3 linked regions of the Homo sapiens genome follow. The protein of the gene in region 3 interacts with the protein of the main gene of each other region in a pairwise test. Each region holds a gene or a part of one and is shown on either strand. Other genes may lie near its edges.

Region 1 (7,522 bases), on a different chromosome or scaffold from region 3:
AATTCTCCTGCTTCAGCCTCCCGAGTAGCTGGGATTACAGGCACCTGCCACCAGGCCCAGCTAATTTTTGTATTTTTAGTAGAGACGGGGTTTCACCATGTTGGCCAGGCTGGTCTCGAACTCCTGACCTTGTGATCAACCTGCCTCAGCCTCCCAAAGTGCTGAGATTACAGCCGTGAGCCGCCGTGCCCAGCTTTAATTTCTAATATAATAAATTTGATAGATATGACTCACTTAAAAGCTATTTGGCATCCTCAATGACTTTTTTAGAGTGTAACGGAGTCCTGAGACCAAAAAGTTTGAGAACTGCTTGATTTGAAAAAACAAGCCTAAAGTCTACCTTTTGCTCCCTGAGGGAAGGCAAGTTGCCCAACTTTTCCAAGACTTTTTCTGGCCCCATAGCATGGGATGATGACTTAAAACTACCTGCTAGGGTTATTGTGAAGACTAAATGGGAAGACGTCTGTGTAAAACTCTTAATTCAGTGCATGGCGTATGACTGTTCAGTAAATATTAACCATCTATTATTATTATTGCTTCTGCTATTACTGTTACCACTACTATGAGGGCTATTACTCCCTGCTGGTGATGTCTTTACTCAGATACATGAAGAACTTATTCTTTGAACTTGCTAAATGCTCTCAGGCCATTGCACTTGTTTCCTTTGCCTGGAATATCTTTCCCTCCTTTTTGTCCAGCAAATCCTCTTCATTTCTTCTTGTATTAACTTCGAGCTTCTTTGATTTAGAAGCCTTCATTGACCTCTCAAAACTATGCTAGGTACCCTGCTGTAAGCCCCAATCTTTGCCCCTTTAAGAGCATACCATAGTGTAATTGCTCGTGTCTTTGCTGGCTCTTCCATTGCACTCCGAAAACTCTGTGAGAGAGGGGACCATGCTTGTTCACTGCTATAATCATAAAGCTCTGCACAGTGCCTGGCAGTCAGTAAATGCCTGTTGAATACATTTTGTAAAAGTCTTCAATATGTCTTCTTGCCACACCGCTCCTTTCATGTCCCAGGGTGCCTAAATAAGCTCGATATCCTGCATATTCCTGTAAATCTCTTTGATCCTCAAGTTAGATGTAAACACTAAACTCAAACAATGATCTGGGCTTCATTTATGATTTTAAGGCAATGGTTAAATGACTTAAAGGATGTTTGATTATATACCTTAATTTCCCAGGGATTCAGAGTTGTACAGGAGGTAAAGCCTTGGTCTTTGCATAAAAGTTGGGTAATTCTTAGCTATGATCCAGGCATAGACTATTCACAAGTTAAGATGGAAAACTAAGACGGCTAGAGAAAATGCCCCTGGGTGCCAGCTTGTGCCATAACTCTTACCACTATAAGAGGAGGGGAGGATAAAGACTGCTTTCTTCCTTTTAAGTTGCCATTCCTTCTGCCATTCGTAGAATTTATGTCTGCACTTTTCTCATCCACTGATAGCTAGTGGCAGTTTCAGAATATCTATTTGAAGAGGGGCTTAGAAGAAACAGTCCCATTGAATAGGGGGATAGGAAAGTTTTTCCTTAAGCTATATTTATATTTTTCAACTTAGATTGCATGTTTATTTTGGAGAATGTTCTTGGATATAAGAGGGTGCTAAGGACTTCCAAGCCACCTCACTGCTAAGAGTACATCTATTTTTAGTGTGGAAACATTTGAAGTAAAGGAATAGGCAGGTTTGATAAGAGAAGTTTGACTAGGTCTCTTTTGTTATTGCTTTTCACACGGGTAAACCTAAACTCTGCCTGGTGAGCATTAACCAATTCAAAAAAGATTTGAAAGTTCAAAAAAGCAGTCGGTGTTGAGAATACATACTAGACCATATTTATTAGGTCTGGGGCCTAAAAAGATCAGTATAATCAATAGGAAACAGGCAGCTTGACAAAAGAAAAACCAAACTTGAGGCAATCAGTTTATCATACAATCATTATATATTTATTTCAGCTATGGACAATACATATGCAGATACCACACAATATAAGATGTGACCTCAAAGGGCTTGCAACCTATTTGGGAAGACAAGAAAATGTCTACTAGATTATCATTTAAGCATGTTTCTGAAACTAATCTTTAGTGTTCATTGTTCCTGCTGGTTATTCTCTTGGCCTAATTATGTGAGGAAAACAGAATGAAGGCAAAGGGATGGGAAGCAAGGGCAATGTGGCTAAAAATATTGATGCTCTTAAGCCATGTGTTCCAAATTTAAAGCAATACATTCATGGTTTTAAAGCTGGAACCTGCAACTAACTTCTAATTAGTCCCTCTTATTTTACAGAGGAGGAAACTGTGGCCTATCCTGCAAAGCACTCTAGCTGATAACTGGTAGCTCTAAGACCAGAAGTCAGGTTCTCTGACTCTCAGTCTAGGGTCCTTTCCAAAACAAACAAGTGCCTCTGAAGGTAAGGTAAAATGACTGGAGTCTTCCTATGCCTGGGGTCTATGCTAAAGAGCCTTAGTTTTTCCTTGAATGGATAGGATGGAATTATTTGAATTATTTTATTAGACCTGCATTATACATTTTTTTAGCATGGCAATTTTCATCAATTCTAATTTCTCAGTTACCAAAATAAAATTTATTAATGCTAAAATCTCCAGTCCTTATCAAAGGGCAAATTAATCAGACTAATAAATTGTTTTTTAACCTCTACTCATTCATCCCTCAACTTTCATATCTTTAACCTATTGAATGACTTACAAATTTTCTATTTCACTCTTGACCTCTTTCCTGAATTTCAGTTTCATATTTCAGTTGCTGCATCTCTACCTGTTTTTACTCCTATGACCTCAAACTCAACATGAAGCCAGCTTCCCTTTCACGTATTCCTATTTTTGTCAATGACACCATCATTCTTCCAGTCATCCAGGTCTGAGATCTTGGCATCATCTCTCTTCTTCTTCTCTTCTAAATCTTGTGGGTTACCAATTTCTGTGGCCTCTTGCTGAAACGTTTAATATTTCTCTCAATTCCATTTCTTCTTTTTTTTTTTTTTTTTTTTTTTTTTTTTTTTTTGAGACAGAGTCTCACTTTCATCCAGGCTGGAGTGCAGTGGCGCGACTGTGGTTCACTTTAGCCTCGACTTCCCCAGCTCAAGCGATTCTCCCACCTCAGCCTCCCGAGTAGCTGGGACTATAGATGTATGCCACCACATCAGGCTAATTTTCTGATTTTTTTGGAGATGAGGTCTCACTGTGTTACCCAGCCAGGTCTCAAGCAATCCTCTCAGCTTGGCCTCCCAAAGTGCTGGGATTACAGGTACCATGCCCAGCCCATTTCTTCTTTTTAATTCCATTTCCTACATCCTAACTCAGGTCCTCATGATCCCACAACCGGGTGGTGACAATATCTACTACTCATCCTGGTTCCATCCTAGCAACCCAACCTACAACTACTGTGGACTACTCTCTCAAAATTACCATTTAAACAGAATCACAAACCCCCATTTCACCCCTTTGATTCTAATTTTTCACAGCTCCCAGTGTCCATGGATAATAAAATTCAAATTCAAAATCCTGAATAATGTTGCCCATGCCCTTGCAACCTCCTCTCACTTTTCCTTCACAGAACCATCCTCCCCAATCAGAAATTTCTTTTCTTCCCAACGCCCACCTCCACCTTTGGCTTAGGCCTGTAACGGACTCTGGCTCCTCTTCTGAATTCTGCTCTGTTAAAATTAGCAACTAGAGCAGCAGACCACGGCCCCTCCTCAAAATTCCAGAGGTACCTACTGATCTTTCTAGAGAGGCAGCCTTCAGACCTATGTTCCCAGAAATCTCTACGTTTGTGCCTTTCCCAACTAGAGAATTAACTCTTGCGGGGCACAAAACAGCCTCTATTTCTTTGCGTCCCCAGCGCCTGTTTGTTGAAGACTGAGTTGAAGGAGTAGCAGGTGGTGTTAATTTGTCAAAAAGATGAGTTAAGGTGCTGGGGGCGAGGGGGAACACCCCCACGGCCCTCCCCCCACAGCAAGGCAGGTGTGTCTGGGGGCCTCGGCGGGTGCCGGGGCGCGGGGCGGATGGTGCCCCCCGGGCGCAGGCCAGGGAGGCCCGAGCGCCTTCCCCACGCCCCGCTCGCCCGCGCGTGTGAGGGGAGGGCGGCCCAGCCGTTTCGCGCCGGGAGGTAGGTGGTGCTGTTGCCGTGACTGTCTTCCTCATTGGCGCCGTGCAGAGAGGCGGAATGTTCAACTCCTAACTGCAGCGGAAACGTGGGAGCCGCGCGGGCCGCTGTCGTCCCAACCCCCGCCGCCCTCGTCGCGCGCGGGGCCTCCGCGCCCCCGGCTGCTGCTCACGCCCCGCCCGGGAGCCAGGTAGGGGTCAGGCTGGAGCCCGCGGAGGGCGGGGAGGGAGGGGGCGAGGCCCGCCGCGCTCGCGAGTCGTCCCTGCGTCTCGGGGCCGAGGCTCCGCCGGAGCCCGGGAGTCTAGGCGGCCTCGGGAGGCTCCTCGGGGCTCCCCTCCCCGACCCAGGGCCCGCCCGGCGGCGGCGGCCGGAGCGAGCGGGCGGGCGAGCGAGCGAGCGTTCGCGGCGCCCGGGAAGTCCTCGCGGGACCTTGGCCGCGGCGCCGCCAAGTGCGGTTCGGGAGAGTTCGGGCCGGTCCCATGGAGAAGTTGGCGCCTGGAGGCGCGGGCGCAGGCCGGAGCGGCCCCGGCTTTCGCGGTCCCGGGCGTGCGGCACGGGCAGGGGCTCCGCGAGCAGCAGAGCCGGCCAAGCAGCGGGTGACTGGGGCACTGTCGGGAGGCGAACCGCGAGGCCCCCAAATCAGGGTAGGGTGCAGGCCACTTCCCAGCACTCGCTGTGCGTGCGAGGAGGGACGACGAACTTCTGCTTTTCTAAGAACTCGACCGCGAGCGGTGTTGCTTCCCATCCATTTTCCTTCATTCTGTTTTCCTCACACAATTAGGCCATGCGAATAACCAGCAGGAACAATGAACACTAAAGATTAGTTTTAAAAACATGCGTAAATGTATCCAGAGCCACCGCTCCCCGCCCTTCCTGCCCCGGGCTTGGGCAGCATGAAGCGCCCGCCCTCTCGGGCTTCCCCCTTTCCTCCCACCGGAGCCGGGGATGTCTCCTTTGGCGACCCTCAGGCAGCGGCTTTTTGTGGGCTCCCAGACCTGCACCAGGCCCAGAAGTGCTTACCCAGGCCGTCGCCTCGTCTGGCCTCGCTTGCCCATGACAGCTTTCAGAAAACTTTAATTCAGGACTGGCTAGATGACATCCGATTGCCTAAAAAATTTTTTTAAAAAGTTATCTCTGTTAGATCGCTGAAAATGTTATGTTTCTGATGCGCTTTGAGATCGCGCATAAGTACTGTTTATGGGGAACTTAATTACTATTTTTGTTAGTTTCTGTAATAATGAAAGCAACACAATTTAGGGGCCCATTCCAAGTATGGTACAGTAAGCAGCTCTCGATACTGGTGTGTGAGAATCGTCTTACAGAGTGAATTTGAGGATGTTTGACTTAAGATTGTTGAAAACTGTACTCCTTCTTTAACCCCGAAGCTGTTTTGGAAGAGCCTTCTTGCTTCCTCGACCTTCGTTGAAATGAACAGCTAGGATTTAGTGGATCCAAACCTCCAAACACGTTTAAAGACAAAAATAAACAAGTGATTCAAGGCTAGTTAATGTCCTCTTTGTAGTAGGCCTATCTCCACAGTGAAATTTCACTTGTTTTTCAATTTTCCAAAAAAAAAAAAAAAAAAAAGTGATGGCTGCATTTTAATTATGGTTATGGTCATTTGTAGAGTCTTTGTTTTAAATTCCTGCTACTATAGTGAGAGATTTAGGAGATTGTAAATGAATACGAATTTAGTTTGGGAAAACAGAATTAAGATAAAGAAAAATGGTCTTTTGGACCACTGCACTGTTTATTTTAATCTATCACAATTTAATTCCTACTATAACTTTTTGAGATTATTTGGGGAGTTTTTTAACTACAAAATATTGTTTAAATAAAAAAATTTAGTGATAATAATTCCAGAGTAAATGACCATGATGCAATTGCAAGGACTTTCTCCGTTGTCTAAAAAAGCAAATAGATGATTGATCCGTTTTTCTTAATCTTTTAGGGAATATATAAGGACACAGTAAAGAGAGAAAAAAAAATCCAAATATTAAACACTCGGACTTGGATCTAAAAATGGATGGTCAAAGATCTTGGGAACTAAGGGGCCTTCTTGCCAAATAAGGAAACTTGGCAAGTTGCACTGTGTATTTTAACTTAGCACAAGAGTGAGTGTTATTGGCAATATATTGGCTCAGAGCCTATCTGGAATGAGCAGTGAAACTGACTTTGATAGGGCTACAAAATTATAAATAGGTTTGTGGGGGCGTGGAGTGAATAATCGAATCATCAGAGAAAACACTGAAAACTTTTCATGAAAATAAGTCAGATGTAAGGTGAAGCTATTAGTGTGGAGTGACAGAGCAAAATGGACAGTTTATTTTAGAAAGTGGTAGATTCAGAAGAGAGGAGAGAATCAGTGGTTTTTTTGTTTTTGTTTTGTTTTTGTTTTTGTTTAAACTGGAAAAAGATGTTTGTGGGGATATAATACTTCTTGGAATAAGATAGCCCTATGTCTGTATCCTGAGATGTTGGAAATAAAAATGAATTTAGATCACTTGTTTTCCATTTTATTCTACCCAGGACAGATTGACAGGGTGAGTATCTTGTCTATCTAAATGTAGTAGGAACAGTTAAGGCACCTTTTGGTCTTACTGCAAGGAAGATTTAGGCTAGTTTTTTGGTAGCTATTAACTTTGCCCCACTAGACACAAATAAGCAGAGTTCCAGCTGTGACCAGAAAATTGTACCTGGTAAGGGAAGAGGACTATGAATGCTAGAGCTTAGATTGATTCGACTGATACATGGGTGCTTTTATGTCAGACCCTCCTACGGATGCTGAAGCATCGTCCTAATAGCTGTTAAGTAATCCCAGCACAGTAGAAGAATCTGTGAGAACAAAGCAGCCCCACATTTGACACCCTAACCCCAGTGTCTTCAATTGTAATAGGAAATTAAAGCCTCAAATTGAACTTTAGGTGGATGGTGAGCAATCCAGTAATTACTGTAATAAGAAAATAGTTTAAATAGGGTAAACAAAAGGCAAATTAGAAGGAGGAGGCAGAATGTTATTAACAAAAAGACATGATATGGTAGAAAACAATGATATGACTTTGGAGTCAGGCCTGAATTTGACACAAGTTGTGTCACCTGTAAGGTAGTTGGCTTGAGCTACTTTCATACCCCTGATCCTCAGTTTTCTCACTCATGTAAGTTAGGAACAGTAGTACCTGCTTCCTAAGGATAAGTACAGTCATGTGTCCATTAATGATGGGGATACGTTCTGAGAGAACTGTGTTGTTACGTGATGTTGTAGTTGTGTAAATACCACAGCGTGCACCTACACAAACCTAGATGCTATAGCCTACTACACACCTAGGCTGTGTGAGATAGTCCGTTGCTCCTAGGCTACAGACCTATGTAGCATGCTGCTATACTGAATAGGCAGTTGTAAC
Region 2 (7,386 bases), on a different chromosome or scaffold from region 3:
TTGAGCTATGATTGCAGCACTGCACTCCAGCCTGGGCAACAGAGCAAGACCCTGTCTCTTAAAAATAAAAACAAAAAAACAAGACAGAGTTTTTTTTTTTTTTAAGAAGTAGAATTATTGATGATTTTACTGAGCAGTGACTGTTATCTGTAGATGATTACCTACATATGTGATGGAGGGGAAAGGAAAGGATTTGTGATAACAAAAATCAGCCTACTTTTGGATTCTGAATAAATAGTGGTGCTGTTTTTGACAAAGGAATTGAAGGAGAAGGCGGGTGCTTAGTACGTAGTTAGGCATTTGGCTTGGGCATGGTGAGTTTGAGGTGCTTAAGATGGAAATACGGGTATGATTCTTAGGAGAGAGATCATACCAGGAGATGTCAGTATGGCAGTTAATGGCATATATATCAAATCTGAATCTATTGGAATAAGTACAATCATCAAGGGACACCGTGTAATGTGAGAAGAGCAGATGAAAGAGATTAGAACGCTAAGGGTCACCAACATTTAAAAGTCATTTGAGGAAAAAGGAGCTAGGGAAGGAGACTGAATTCCATCTCTTCTGCAGAATGAGTGCTGGGAGTGGTGTGGGAAAAAGGCGTGGATGATTCACATGGCTGTCACTCCACCTGGAAGTTAATCTTCTTTTGGTCCCACTTAGAATATAGTATGGGTGTTATCTTGACATTGCTGGTTACATTTTTGTCTTGTCTTCAATGAGAAGTGTTTATTTGCCACTGACCATAACAGTACTTTTGAGAAAATTCTAGCAGTACCATGAAATGTCTTTCCTTGGTGGCTTTGCATTTGGAAACAAACCCAGAAGCAGTGCACCACGGGCCAGGAGTGTACACTCATCACCCTGAGGACTGATCATTTGTTTTTATTTTAGAAGATAAATCCTGGCCGGGCGCGGTGGCTCGTGCCTGTAATCACAACACTTTGGGAGGCCGAGGGGGGCGGATCATCTGAGGTCAGGAGTTCAAGACCAGCCTGGCCAACATGGTGAAACCCCGTCTCTACTAAAAATACAAAAATTAGCTGGGCATGGTGGTGGGCACCTGTAATCCTAGCTACTCGGGAGGCTGAGGCAAGAGGTTGCAGTGAGCTGAGATTGCACCATTGCACTCCAGTCTGGGCGACAAGAGCAAGACTCCATCTCAAAAAAAAAAAAAGATAAATCCTGGCTGGGCATAGTGGCACATTCCTGTAGTCCTAGCTACTTGGGAGGCTGAGGCGGGAGGATCCCCTGAGCCCCAGAGTTTGAGGTTGCAGTGAGCTGTGATTATACATCACACTCCAGCCTGGGTGACAGAGTGAGACTCTGTCTCAAAAAGAAAAAATCCCTTTGAGGCAGTGTGAGTGTTACAGCATTTGATACTTGAATATTTTTGTATGTCCAAAATTTAATTTAATTAATTAACTTATTTATTTTTGAGATGGCGTGTTGCACTGTTGCCTGGGCTGGAGTGCAGTGGCACGATCTCAGCTTGCTGCAGCCTACGCCTCGCAGGTTCAAGCGATTTTCCTGCCTCAGCCTCCCGAGTAGCTGGGATTATAGGCGCCCGCCACCACGCCCAGCAAATTTTTTGTATTTTTAATAGAGACAGAGTTTCACCATGTTGGCCAGGCTGGTCTAGCACTCCTGACCTCGTGATTTGCCCACCTCGGCCTCCCAAAGTGCTGGGATTACAGGCGTGAGCCACTGTGCCTGGCCTATGTTTTTTAATTAAAAAAAATTATTATACATCTCAGCAGCAGAAGGAAACTTTAGGAATATTTTTAATGTCAAACTCTTTCCTATTCTCCTGAGGGATAGAAACTTACTTATGGAATTTTGAGGATTTTATTTATTTATTTACTTATTTTTGAGACAGAGTCTCACACTGTTGCCCAGGCTGGAGTGCAGTGGCACGATCTTGGCTCACTGCAACCTCCACCTCTCGGGTTCAAGCGATTCTAGTGCCTCAGCCTCCCTAGTAGCTAGAACTACAGGAGCGTGCCACTATGCCCAGCTACTTTTTGTATTTTTAGTAGAGACGGGGTTTCATCATGTTGGCCAAGCTAGTCTTGAACTCCCAACCCCAGGTGACCCACCAGCCTCAGCCTGCCAAAGTGCTGAGATTATAGGCATGAGCCACAGTACCCGGCCATGTCTCTGTTTTTCTTTTGGTGAAGGAGAAGGTCATATGGTCTCAAAAAACTTGAGTAACTACAGGGCACATTTAGATGGAAAAGAGTTCTGGCAGTGTTCTTCAGGGCTGTGGAAGGACATAGAAGTTGGTCATTTTCATATCATATGCCTCTATGTAACTTTTTTTTTTGGCGGGGGGGACGGAGTCTCGCTCTTTTGCCCAGGCTGGAGTGCAGTGGCGTGATCTCGGCTCACTGCAACCTCCATGTCCCGGATTCAAGTGATTCTCCTGCCTCAGCCTCCCTAGTAGCTGGGAATACAGGCACCTGCCACCACACCCAACTAATTTTTGTATTTTTAGTAGAGACAGGGTTTCACCATGTTGGCCAGGATGGTCTTGATCTCCTGACCTCGTGATCCACCTGCCTCCGCCTCCCAAAGTGCTGGGATTACAGGCGTGAGCTACCGCACCCAGCCTGACATTTTCTTTTTATTGTTCTGTTGAATAATTTGTAATCTGATATATGATACTCTTTTAGGAAAACATAGATGCATCATTTGGCTTTTCAAGCCTTATGCCCAGCCTGGGCAACATAGTGAGACCTCATCTCTACCAAAAAAAAAAAAAAAAAAATAGCTGGGCATGGTGGCGTGCACGTGTGGTCACAGCTACTTGGGAGGCTGAGATGGGAGGATTGCTTGAACCTGGAAGTTCAAGGCTGCAGTGAGTTATGATCCTACCACTGTGCTCCAGCATGAGTGACAGAACAAGACCCAGTCTCAAAAAAAAAAAAAAAAACACCCTATCCCCTGTTGCACCTCTCAGGGCAATATTTTGTACTGGCTCCTATTGAAGTTCATAATGATTCTGTAGGAGAGATGGAAAGAAGTCCCTGGGCTTTCTGCTTTGCCTAAAATTGGTTGATTTCCTTGTATAGAGTAGATAGATTTTTCATCTCTGGCAAAATGTTGCCACTGTATATCCCTTTTCCTCTTGGATTTGATCTTAGAGTCACGTCTAAAATAGTTTCTACTTTAACTTTTTGGGAATTTGACTGTGGCATCACTTAAGAACTTATTTGCAAGAACGCTAGAGACCCACCCAGACATGAGTTGTGTTGATTACTTTATATGTGACCATTTTCATTGTTCTAGTTCTCTTATTCTTGATTGTAGGTGAAATCGCCATGCTTGGTGGTGTGGGAGAAGAGAATGAGAAACTGTGGAGCTTTACCAAAAAGGCCTCGCACATTCAGTTGGACAGGTAAAAGAGTTTGTGCCTTTTTGACTTACTTTTAAGCATTTAAACTATGTCTGCTTTTTTCCTCCCTCTGTTCAAGATTCTCATTAAGGGAGATAGAGAATATATATTTCAAGGTTTTCAGACCATGCGTGGTGGTTTACACCTGTAATCCCAGCACGTTGGGAGGCCAAGGCGGGTGGATTGCTTGAGGCCAGGAGTTTGAGACCAGCCTGGCCAACATGTTGAAACCCTGTCTCTACTAAAAATATAAAAATTAGACGGGCATGGACCTGTAATCCAGCTACTTGGGGAGGCTGAGACAGGAGAATTGCTTGAACCCAGGAGGCAGATGTTGCAGTGAGCCAAGTTTGTACCACTACACTCCAGCCTGGGCAACAGCAAGACTCCATCTCAAAATAAGTATAAAATAAAATAAAAAATTATCCGGGCATGGTGGCGTGCGCCTGTAAGTCCCAGCTACTCGAGAGGCTGAGGCAAGAGAGTCGCTTGAATCGGGGAGGTGGAGGTTGCAGTGAGCTGAGATCGCACCACAGCACTCCAGCCTAGGGGACAGAGTGAGACTCTGTCTGAAAAAAAAAAAAAAAAGCGTTTCACTGCCCATTACCACTGTTACTAATGAAATAGTTGTGATTATAATCCTTGGTATAGTATTACTACACATTTTTTCAATCCAATATATAAAAGAATTGTTAAATTTTAGAAATTATCAATGTATTGTTGAAATGGAGTCATATTCCAGTAAACCAGATCTTTTGGCTTAAACTGGACAGTTATGATCCTACCAATTTTCTGTCTTACTTATATTTATTTGAAAAGAGAATCTTTGTGTAACATCTTGCAAATCCCCTACTGCCATGAGAATTAATTACTGGGGGCTTCAGGATCTTTCAAGCATGTGACTGCTCTAAAATATTTCTTGTATTTTTTAACTCTCAGTTAGAGGTCTCATAACACATGAGCTTTGTTTCCTCAGCTTACCAGAAGTACCTTTACTGGTTGATGTGCCTTGTTTATCTGCTCAGTTGGATGACTCAATTCTTAACATAGTGAAAGACCACATTTTTAAGCATGGAACAGTAGCATCTCGCCCACCAGTACAGATAGAAGAACTAATAGAGAAACCTGGAGGCATCATTGTACGATGGTGTAAGGTATGTAATTCAGAATTCTAGAAATGACTTCCACATTATGGGTTTGCGATTTGGAGGCCTTTCAGATTTTTTCGTTGACTACTTTTAAATACATTCTTTTCTTCTCAAACAAAAATCTCTTTTACTTTACAGTTAAAATGAAGTCACATGGAACACTGAGGTAGCTCTTCCAGTTTTATTTTTATTTTATTTATTTATTTTTTGAGACAGAGTTTTGCTCTTTCACCGAGGCTGGAGTGAAGTGGCGTGATCTCGGCTTACTGCAACCTCCATGCCCTCCCCCGCCTGCCGCTTCCCCCGGGTTCAAGCCATTCTCCTGCTTCGGCCTCCTGAGTAGCTGGGATTATAGGCACCTGCCATCACACCTGCCTAATTTTTGTATTTTTTGTAGAGACGAGGTTTCACCATGTTGGCCAGGCTGTTCTTGAACTCCTGACCTCAGGTGACCCACTCGCCTCGGCCACCCAAAGTGCTGGGATTATAGGTGTGAGCCGCCGTGCCTGGCCTTTTTTTTTTAAATGAAGCCTTGCTGTGTCGCCCAGGCTGGAGTGCAGCGATGCAACCTCCGACCTCAGGTGATCTGCCCACCTTGGCCTCCCAAAGTGCTGGGATTACAGGTGTGAGCCACTCCGCCTGGCTGACATTTTCTTTTTTTTTTTTTTTGAGACAGAGTTTCGTTGTTGTTGTTCAGGCTGGAATACAATGGCACGATCTTGGCTCACCACAACCTCCGTCTCCCGGGTTCAAGCAATCCTCCTGCCTCAGCCTCCCAAGTAGCTGGGATTAAGGCATGCGCCACCACACCTGGCTAAGTTTGTATTTTTAGTATTTTTGTATTTTTAGTAGAGACAGAGTTTCTCCATGTTGGTCAGGTTGGTCTCAAACTCCCGACCTCAGGTGATCTGCCCACCTCGGCCTCCCAAAGTGCTGGGATTACAGGTGTGAGCCACTGTGCCCAGCTGAGATTTTATTAAAAGGAAATTTTTTTTTCTTTTTTTATAAACATGCTGTTGTTATTTTCTAACAGGACTGTCATTCCATTTTTATTATTTTTCCTATCAGTGGACCTAGTTATTTCCAGTTTTTTGCTATAAGTATTTTTACTTGTGTTTCTTTATGGACATATGTGAAGTTTGTAAAATATTAATATTTACCTAGGTGTAAAATTATGAGGTCTTCTTAGAGTATTGGATCCATACGCTGATAGGTAATAACAAACTTTCCACAAGATGATTCTATCAATTTAGCCTTCCAAGGAGTATATGAGTTTCTGTTATTCCATATCTTGACCAATAATTGGCATTGTGAGACTTTATATTTTTGCCTAAATGTACCTTGTTGTGGTTTTATTTATTTGTTTGTTTTTGAGACAGGGTCTCACTCTGTCACCCAGGCTGGAGTACAGTGGCACAATCATGTCTCCAGTCTCAATCTCCTGGGCTCAAGTGATCCTCCCGCCTCAGCCCCCAAGTAATTGGGACTTCAGGCATGTGCTTCCACAGCCAGCTAAGTTTTGTAATTTTTTGTAGAGATGGGGTTTTGCTGTGTTGCCTAGGCTGGCCTCAAATTCCTGGGCTCAAGTGCTCCACCCGCTTCGGCCTCTCAAAGTGTTAGGATTATAGGCATGAGCCATCATGTCTGGCCTTGTTGTGGTTTTAGATCGTATTTGCCATATTACAAATTAGGTACAAATTAGGTTGAATATTCATAATATACATTTTTGGCTATTTATGTTTCTTCTCCTGTAGAACGCTTATTTATGTCTTTTACCCATTTTTCTATTGGGTGGCTAATTAACATACAGAATATATGCAGGACCCCTAAAAATTAATGGGGGTTCTGTATACTGTATGTTAATTATCTCTTGGTTATTATGAATGATGTATGGTTGTGGGAGACTTACTGAATCTTGAATGTTTTATCTTTGGCATTGATTAAAAAACATGCCATTTCTTCAAAGGAGGCAGACTTTTTTATATCAGACTGGGAAATACAGAACACATGGTTCAATAAAGAAAAGAAGGGAGCCCAGGCGCAGTGTCTCACGCCTATAGTCCTAGCACTTTGAGAGGCTGAGACGAGAAGATTGCTTGAGCTCAGGAGTTAAAGATCTGAGATATGGTGAAGCCCAGTCTCTACAAAAAATACAAAAAATTAGCCGGACATGGTGGTGTGCACCTGAAATCCCAGCTACTTGTGGGGTGGAAGGAAGAGGATGGCTTGAACCCGGGGTGTGGAGGCTGCAATAAGCCGAGATCACGCCACTGCACTACAGCCTGGGTGACAAAGTGAGACCCTTTCTCAAAAAAAAAAGAAGGGAGATAATGATGTGATGGCATATTTTCTATGGCCTTCCCAAGAATACCCCATATTCAGCATGTGGGCCTGTCTGCTTGGTCCAAAATGGCTCCGTTCAAAATTTTTAAGCAGTGATGCTGAGAGAAGTCATTTTCTGTTTTTTACCTAACATAAAGCTTTTCTCCCTAGGTGGATGATGACTTTACAGCCCAAGATTACAGGCTCCAGTTTCGTAAATGTACTTCAAATCATTTTGAGGATGTATATGTAGGTTCTGAAACTGAATTCATAGTATTGCACATAGACCCCAACGTTGATTACCAGTTCAGAGTCTGCGCCCGAGGAGATGGCCGACAGGAGTGGAGTCCTTGGAGTGTCCCCCAGATAGGTCATTCCACATTGGTGCCTCATGGTATGCTGCTAACCTTTTCTCTCCTGAAGCCTAACTATATATTAGAATACCTGTATTCTGTGCTAAGGGCAGCACACTGACAACCAGCTATTCTAAGCATAGATCCTGAATTGATAAGAACAACA
Region 3 (7,386 bases):
TTATAGACAGCACATGGTTTGGTCTTACTTTTTTTATATAATTTGACCTCTGTTATTTAATTGGTGTGTTTATGCCAATTATTGATATAGTTGTGTTAAAGTCTACCATCTTGCTGGTTTTTTTCTGTTTTTCTTATTTGGTCTTTGTTTCTGTTTACCTTTTTTTCTGTCTACTTTTGTCTTAAGTGGGTCTTTTTTATAATTACATTTTATCTCCACTGTTGTCTTATTGTATATTTGTAAAAATTTAACAGAGTTTTTGGTTGTTACCCTAAAGTTTAGTGGAACTTTAAAGATATCATACTGTTTTATGTCAATATACTTGGAACATTATACTCCCAATTTCATCCTCCCGTCTTTTGCATTATTGTTGTCATACATGTTGCAGAATATTGACATATGCTGTAAACCCACAAAACTTTGCTACTATTTTTGCTTTAGATAATCTTTCACAGTGATTAAAAGCAAGAAAAAGTATCTATTGTGTTGATCCTCATTTTAACGATTCTCGAGATTTTCATTTATTTGTGTAGATTCAGGTTTTTGTCTGATATCATATTTCTTCTATTTAAATAACTTCATTAAACATTTCTTCTAGTGCAGGTCTACTGATAATGAATTCGCTATGTTTTTGTTGTTTGAAAAAGGTTTTTTACTTCATTATCATTTTTGAAAGATATTTTTGCTGGGTATAGAATTCTGAGTTAATAGTTTTTTGCTTTAGTTGCTTTTTTGTTGTTGTGAAAGCACTTTCAGGATGTCACTACTTTGTTTTCTGGCTTAGTTTCTGATGAGAAGGTGGCTATGATTCATTATCTTGATTTTTCTACATATAATATGTCTTTTTTCCTCTGGCTACTTTGAAGATTTTAACTTTGGTTTTCATTTGTTTGGATACGATGTGTCCATGTGTGTTTTTGTTTGAGTTTAGTTTTTGGTATTTTCCCTGTTTGGATAAATTGAGTTTCTTGGACCTGTGGTTTCATATTATTATTTTTGGAAAATTCTTGTCCATTATGTCTTCAAATACTTCTTTTCTCCTTTTGGAATTTCAGTTACATGTTTATTAGACCATTTGATATTGTCTCACAGCCCTTGGATGCTCTATCCTTTTATGTTTTTCTTCCATTTCTCTTTGAGTTTCAGTTTGACCTATCTTCAAGTTTACTGAAACTTTTCTTAGCTCCTTTGTCTACTAATGAACCTGCTGAAAGATCAACTCTGTTACTGTACTTTTCTTAGCATTTCCATTTGATTTTTTCTTGCAGTTTCCATCTCTGCTGAAATTCCCTATTTGTTTATTCATGTTGTCCACCTTTTCTAGTAAAGCCTTTAGTATATGAATCATAGTTGTGTTAAATGCCCTGTCTGATAATTTCAGCAGTTGAGGGTTCTGTTGATTGTTTTGCCTCTTTTGATAGTGGATTATCTTAGTCTTGCCTTTATGGGTGTCTGATAATGTTAGATTGAAGATAGGTGCTGTTAGTATGATCTTTTCTGCCCCTTCTGAAGAGGCAAAGGGACTTTCCCAGGAGGTGGTATTTTCCCAGGTGGTCTCTAGGGGTTTCTAAACAAGTCATTCTAGGAGTTGTAAGGCAGGTCAGACCTTTAATAACAATGCCTTCCTTTTTCCTCTATTCCAGTTCTGCCTTCATAGTTCTCTGCCTTTGCCCAAAACTGCAGAAAATGAACAAATCCCAGGTGAGTTGTTTGTTTATTCCCCATTTTGCTTTTCAGTGCATTTAAGGAAGTTTATAAGGATCCAGAAAATGAAATAGAAAAGTATGAATAAGACACAAAGGAAACATAGCAAGAATAACTAATCAATACCAGCAGCCAAAAAGCAAATTGAGTTAATTAAATGTCTTGCATTGGTTATGAATACCAATTATTTGGTTCTGTACATTAGGTCTGAATAAATTTTATGGACCTTCATATAGATGGTGTTTTGGACAGCACCCCCAGAAACAACCAACTTTGAAAGGGTTATCACTTTATCTGTGGTTGTTTCATATAACATTCCTCAGTGCAAGTGCAGAAGATTATTGTATGTATTTGGTTTTTCCAGTCAGATTAGCCTAATGCCAGAGAATGCAGTAAATATGTGGGTTTGTATTTAAATCCCTCCACCCCAAGCAGGTACCACTGTCATTACTTTCTTGTGTAGCTTTCCAGAGCTTATTTGTACATAATTACACAAGTACAAATAAAAGCACAAACGTAAGATAGCATGTTAATCATACTGTTCTGTTTATATGCGTTCTGTTTTAATAGATTTCATTTTTTTTAGAGCAGTTTTGGGTTTACAGAAAAATTGAATGGGGAATGCAGTGTGTTCCCATATACCCCCTCATTCCCAACCCCTACCCCCAGTTTCCTTTATTATTAATATATGCATTAATGTATATTGTTACAGTTGATGAGCCAATATTGATACTTTAAAGACCATAGTTTACAGTAGGGATCACTCTCTGTGTACATTCTGTGTATTTTGACCAATATATAATGACATGTATCCATCACTATGGCATCATACAGAATAGGTTCACTGCCCTGAAAATCCCGTGCTCCGCCTATGCACCTCTCCCTCTGTCTCCCTAAGTCCCTAACACCCACTGATCTTTCTACTGTCTCATCTCCCTAGTCGTGTCTTTTCTAGAATGTCATATAGTTGGATTCATGCAGTAGGTAGCCTTTTTAGATTGGTTTCCTTCACTTAGAAATATGCATTTAAGGTTTCTCCAAGTTCAAGACAATGCTGGCCAACACGGTGAAACCCCGTCTCTAGTAAAAAAAAAAGTACAAAAAATTAGCCAGGCGTGGTGGCGGGCGCCTGTAGTCCCAGCTACTCGGGAGGCTGAGGCAGGAGAATGGCGTGAAGCCAGGAGGCGGAGCTTGCAGTGAGCTGAGATCGCGCCACTGAACTCCAGCCTGGGCAACAGAGCGAGACTTTGTCTCAAAAAAAAAAAAAGAGAAGGTTCCTCCAAGTCTTTTCTTGGCTTGATAACTCATTTCTTCTTAGTACTGAATATGTCATGATGTGATGTACCACGGTTTATTTATCCATTCACATATTGAAGGAACAGATAAACTTAGTGGCTTCTAAGTTTTGGCAATTATAAATAAAGCTGTTATAAACATCTGTGTGCAGGTTTTTTGGGGGCATGTTTTCAACTCATTTGGATAAATACCAAGGCCCCTGGATCATACACTAAGAATATAATTAATTTTGTAAGAAACTGCCAAACTCCCTTCAATGTGGCTGTACCATTTTACATTCCCACATTCTCACCAGCAATGAATGAGAGTTTTTTTTTTTTTTTTTTTTTGGTTTTAAGGAGCGGAAAGTTTAATAGGCAAGAAAGAAAAGAGAAGGCAGAAGGAAGAGGCTCCCCTGACAGAGACAGAGGGAGGGGGGCTCCAAAGCCGAGAGAGGGAACCTCCTGAATGAGAGTTTCTACGGCCCTGCATCCTCACCAGCATTTTGTGTTGTCAGTGTTCTGGATTTTAGCCATTTTATTTATTTATGTTTTTAATTTTTATTTTTTTTGAGATGGAGTCTTGCTCTGTCACACAGGCTGGAATGTAGTGGCGTGATCTTGGCTCAGTGCAACCTCCCCTTCCCAGGTTCAAGTGATTCTCCTGCCTCAGCCTCCCGAGTAGCTGGGATTACAGGTGCGCACCACCATAGCCCAGCTAATTTTTGTATTTTTAGTAGAGATGGGGTTTCACCATGTTGGTCAGGCTGGTCTCGAACTCCTGGGCTCAAGTGATCCACCCACCTTGGCCTCCCAAAATGCTGATTACAAGCGTAAGTCACTGTGCCTGGTTATGGTTTGTGTTTCAATCTCTTAATTATGTGATTTGATTTTGTTTTGTTTTTGAGACAGGGTCTCGCTCTGTCACCTAAGTGGGAGTGCAGTGATGTGAACACGGTTTACTGCAGCCTCGACTTGCTGGACTCAAGCAGTCCTCCTGCCTAAATCCCCGCAAGTAGCTGGGACTACAGGCACATGCCGCCATGCTTACCTAATTTTTTGTATTTTTTTGTAGAGATGGAGTTTTGCCCTGTCGCTCAGGCTCATCTTGAACTCCTGAGCTCAAGCAATCCATGTCCACCTCAGTCTCCTAAAGTGCTGGCATTACAGGTGTGAGCCACCGTGCTCAGCCCAATTATGTGTTTTTTAAATCATTCAGTAACATATCTTTGAAGTATTTCCATATCAGAGCATAGAGGTTGCTCATTCTTTTTTTTCCTAATCTTTAATTGTGTGACACATGTACAGAATAGTGTATTAAGACATAACACTCTTTAAATGTGTTATAACAACATATATAACAAATATATATGCATTAAAGAATAATAATAAAATGGGTGCCCATGTAGGCACCCAAGTTAAGAAATAGAACATTATCTGTTCTTTATGACAAATTTTCTGATTGAATCCACCTAGTAGATAGCCACTATCTTGACATTTTTCTTAATAGTTCCCTTGCTTTCCTTAAAGACTTTACCACTTAGATATATTCTTAATGTAATATTCAGTTGATAAACTATAACTGGGATTAATATCACTTATAGTCTTAATATAAAATTTAGTTAACAAACTATAACTGGAATTAATATTGCCTTGGTTTGCATAATCTTTTGTCTAATTGGTGGAGGTTTTTTTTTCCTTTCAGACATGTGAGATCTAAAAGATGCATCCGTGGGCCCTTTGCCAAGACTTAGGTTATCATTTATTTTTTAAATTACACTAGCTAGTGTTAGCTAAGAAGAAATGAAACCACTCATGTATTGCTGGAGATAGTATAGAATGATACAGCCTTACTGGGAGCAATGTGGCAACACCAAGCAAATTTAGCAGTGTAAAGCAGCTGTGTCTAGAAATTTGGCTACTGTTGGGGCCAGGTGTGGTGGGTCACGCCGGTAATCCTAGCACTTTGGGAGGCCGAGGTTGGTGGATCACTTGAGGTCAGGAGATCGAGACCAGCCTGGCCAACATGGCGAAACCCTGTCTTTACTAAAAATACAAAAAAAATTAGCCGGGCGTGGTAGCATGCGCCTGTAATCCCAGCTACTTCGGAGGCTAAGGCAGGAGAATCGCTTGAACCCAGGAGGTGGAGGCTGCAGTGAGCCGAGATCATGCTACTGCACTCCAGCCTGGGCAACAGAGTAAGACTCTGTCTCAGAAAAAGAAAAGAAAAGAAAAGAAATTTTGCTACTGTTGGACAAAGCCTCCCAGGAAAAGATGAGCTGAATTGAATTTCCAGGTATAGCCTGGCTTTGACTTTCCTGAGAGTTTACAGAAGTCCCGTTTGGGGAGGTTATTGGCAAGGTCATGAGAAGCATGGGGCTCAACATAGTTGGGCCGTGTGACAGGGTCAGAGTGTAGACTAGGTATTGAATTTTTGGTACGAATATAATTAGAGGGAGTGGGATGCTATGCATTTTCTGCATCTTGGTTCACTGGTGAATAGCCACCACTCAGGAGTAGATTAAAGCAGAACACTTCTGTGACATGAAATGACTGTTCTCATCTGATCCAAGGCAGTCTGGTATGGAGGGGAAAGACAGATGTCATCAGAACATGTTCAAGATAAGCCAAACCAAGTACAGTTAAGAATCTGGGCCAGGCTCACCCAGGCATTCTGCCCTCAGGTTAATAAAAAGTTGGTACAGTGGCCGCAGGTATCTTGTTGATGACAACCCTCAGAATGCCAGCTTTTGAATCACTGTGTTCCAGTCCGTAACTACAAGTAATGTGGTGTTAGTAGAGAATCAGTGCTATTTCACCATCTCCCACCGCTGTCTCCTTCCCACTCCTAGGGATTTCCTTCCTCTCTCTCATGTTGATCTTTTGTTTGCAGCGTCTCTTTTTTGGATTACTGTTGTTTTATTGAAGTACATGCTTCAGCAGCTTCTTGAGAAAGGGTTTGTGAGAGGTATGTTTTTTAGGCTGAATTTCTGAAAATGTCTTTTTTTTTTTTTTTTTTTTGAGACAGTCTCACTCTGTCTCCCAGGCTGGGGTGCAGTGGTGTGATCTTGGCTCACTGCAATCTCTACCACAGGGTTCAAGCAATTCTCCCGCCTCAGCCTCCTAAGTAGCTGTGATTACAGGTGTGTGCCACTACACACGGTGAATTTTTGTATTTTTAGTAGAGACGGGATTTCACCCTGTTGGCCAGGCTGGTCTTGAACTCCTGGCCTCAAGTGATACGCCCTCCTCAGCCTCCCAAAATGCTAGGATTACAGGTGAGAGCCACTGCACCTGGCCTTCATTCTGTTCTGGTATTTGATTGATAGCTAGGTATGAATGTGGATTTGTCCATTCCTCAGTTTAGTTCTGTCAGGCTTGATATAATTTGAAGCTGTGTTAGTCATTGCATATATGGTTATGGATGTGTGCACACATATGATTCTGTCTTCCTGATGGACTTATCCTTTTATCATTTTGAAATGCCCCTCTTTATCCCTGATAATACTGCTTTTCTGATAAAAATAAAGCCATACCTACCTCTTCTGGGTTGGTTGGTTGGTTTGTTTTGAGACCGGATCTGGCTCTGTTACCCAGGCTGGAGTGCAGTGGCTTGATCTTCACTCACTGCAGTCTTTGCCTCCTGAGTTCAAGTGATCCTCCCAGTATTTGGAACTACAGGCGTGTACCACCATGCTCAGGCAATTTTTGTAGTTTTGTTTTTGGTAGAGATGGGATCTCGCCAGGTTGCCCAGGCTGGTCTCAAACCCCTAGGCTTACGAGATCTGTCTACCTCAGCCTCCCAAAGTTCTGGGATTACAAATGTGAACCACCATGCCTGGCCCATACCTCCTTTTTTTTATGATTAGTGTTATGGTATATATTTTATTTTTGCTTCAACCTATTTATGTTCATATGTTTATAGTATATTTCCCCTAAATAGCTTGTAGTTTGGTCGTGGTTTTGATCCAGCCTGTTTCTTTTTTCTTTTTTTGAGACAGGGTCTTCCTCTGTTGCCCAGGGTGGAATTTAGTGGCATGAACACAGCTCACTGCAGCCTCAAGTTCCTTGATCCAGCCTATTTCTGTCTATTTTTTTTTTTTTTTAATTTTTTTTATTTTTTGAGACAGGATCTCTCTTTCTCACCCAGGCTGCAGTGCTGGAGTGAAGTGGTGTGATCTTGGCTCATTGCAGCCTCAAGCAGTTCTCCCACGTCAGCCTCCTGAGTAGCTGGGACTACAGGCCTGTGACAGTTAATTTTAATTTTAATTTTTTTTATTTTTTTTGTCGTGATGAGATCTTGCCTCCCAAAGGGCTGGGATTATAGGCGTGAGCCACCATGCCTGGCCTATTTCTGTCTTTTAATTGGTTTATTATTTTATTTGTGATTTTTTTTTTTTTTTTACAG

Evidence for each region.
Region 1: the proteins of ZFP1 (region 3) and MAP3K20 interact in binary tests that used the Homo sapiens proteins (3 or more experiments, as listed by UniProt).
Region 2: the proteins of ZFP1 (region 3) and CRLF3 interact in binary tests that used the Homo sapiens proteins (3 or more experiments, as listed by UniProt).

Annotation. Positions count from the first base shown.
Region 1 is NC_000002.12:173,071,692-173,079,213, forward strand, and holds the start of MAP3K20 (mitogen-activated protein kinase kinase kinase 20), read left to right. Parts: upstream 1-4,154; 5' UTR 4,155-4,311; intron 4,312-4,379; exon of another isoform or gene 4,380-4,765; intron 4,766-7,522. UniProt on the Homo sapiens protein: Stress-activated component of a protein kinase signal transduction cascade that promotes programmed cell death in response to various stress, such as ribosomal stress, osmotic shock and ionizing radiation.
Region 2 is NC_000017.11:30,793,325-30,800,710, reverse strand, and holds part of CRLF3 (cytokine receptor-like factor 3), read left to right. Parts: intron 1-3,312; coding exon 3,313-3,400; intron 3,401-4,373; coding exon 4,374-4,551; intron 4,552-7,038; coding exon 7,039-7,261; intron 7,262-7,386. UniProt on the Homo sapiens protein: May play a role in the negative regulation of cell cycle progression.
Region 3 is NC_000016.10:75,151,266-75,158,651, forward strand, and holds part of ZFP1 (zinc finger protein 1 homolog), read left to right. Parts: intron 1-1,643; coding exon of another isoform or gene 1,644-1,686; coding exon 1,687-1,701; intron 1,702-5,871; exon of another isoform or gene 5,872-5,946; intron 5,947-7,386. UniProt on the Homo sapiens protein: May be involved in transcriptional regulation.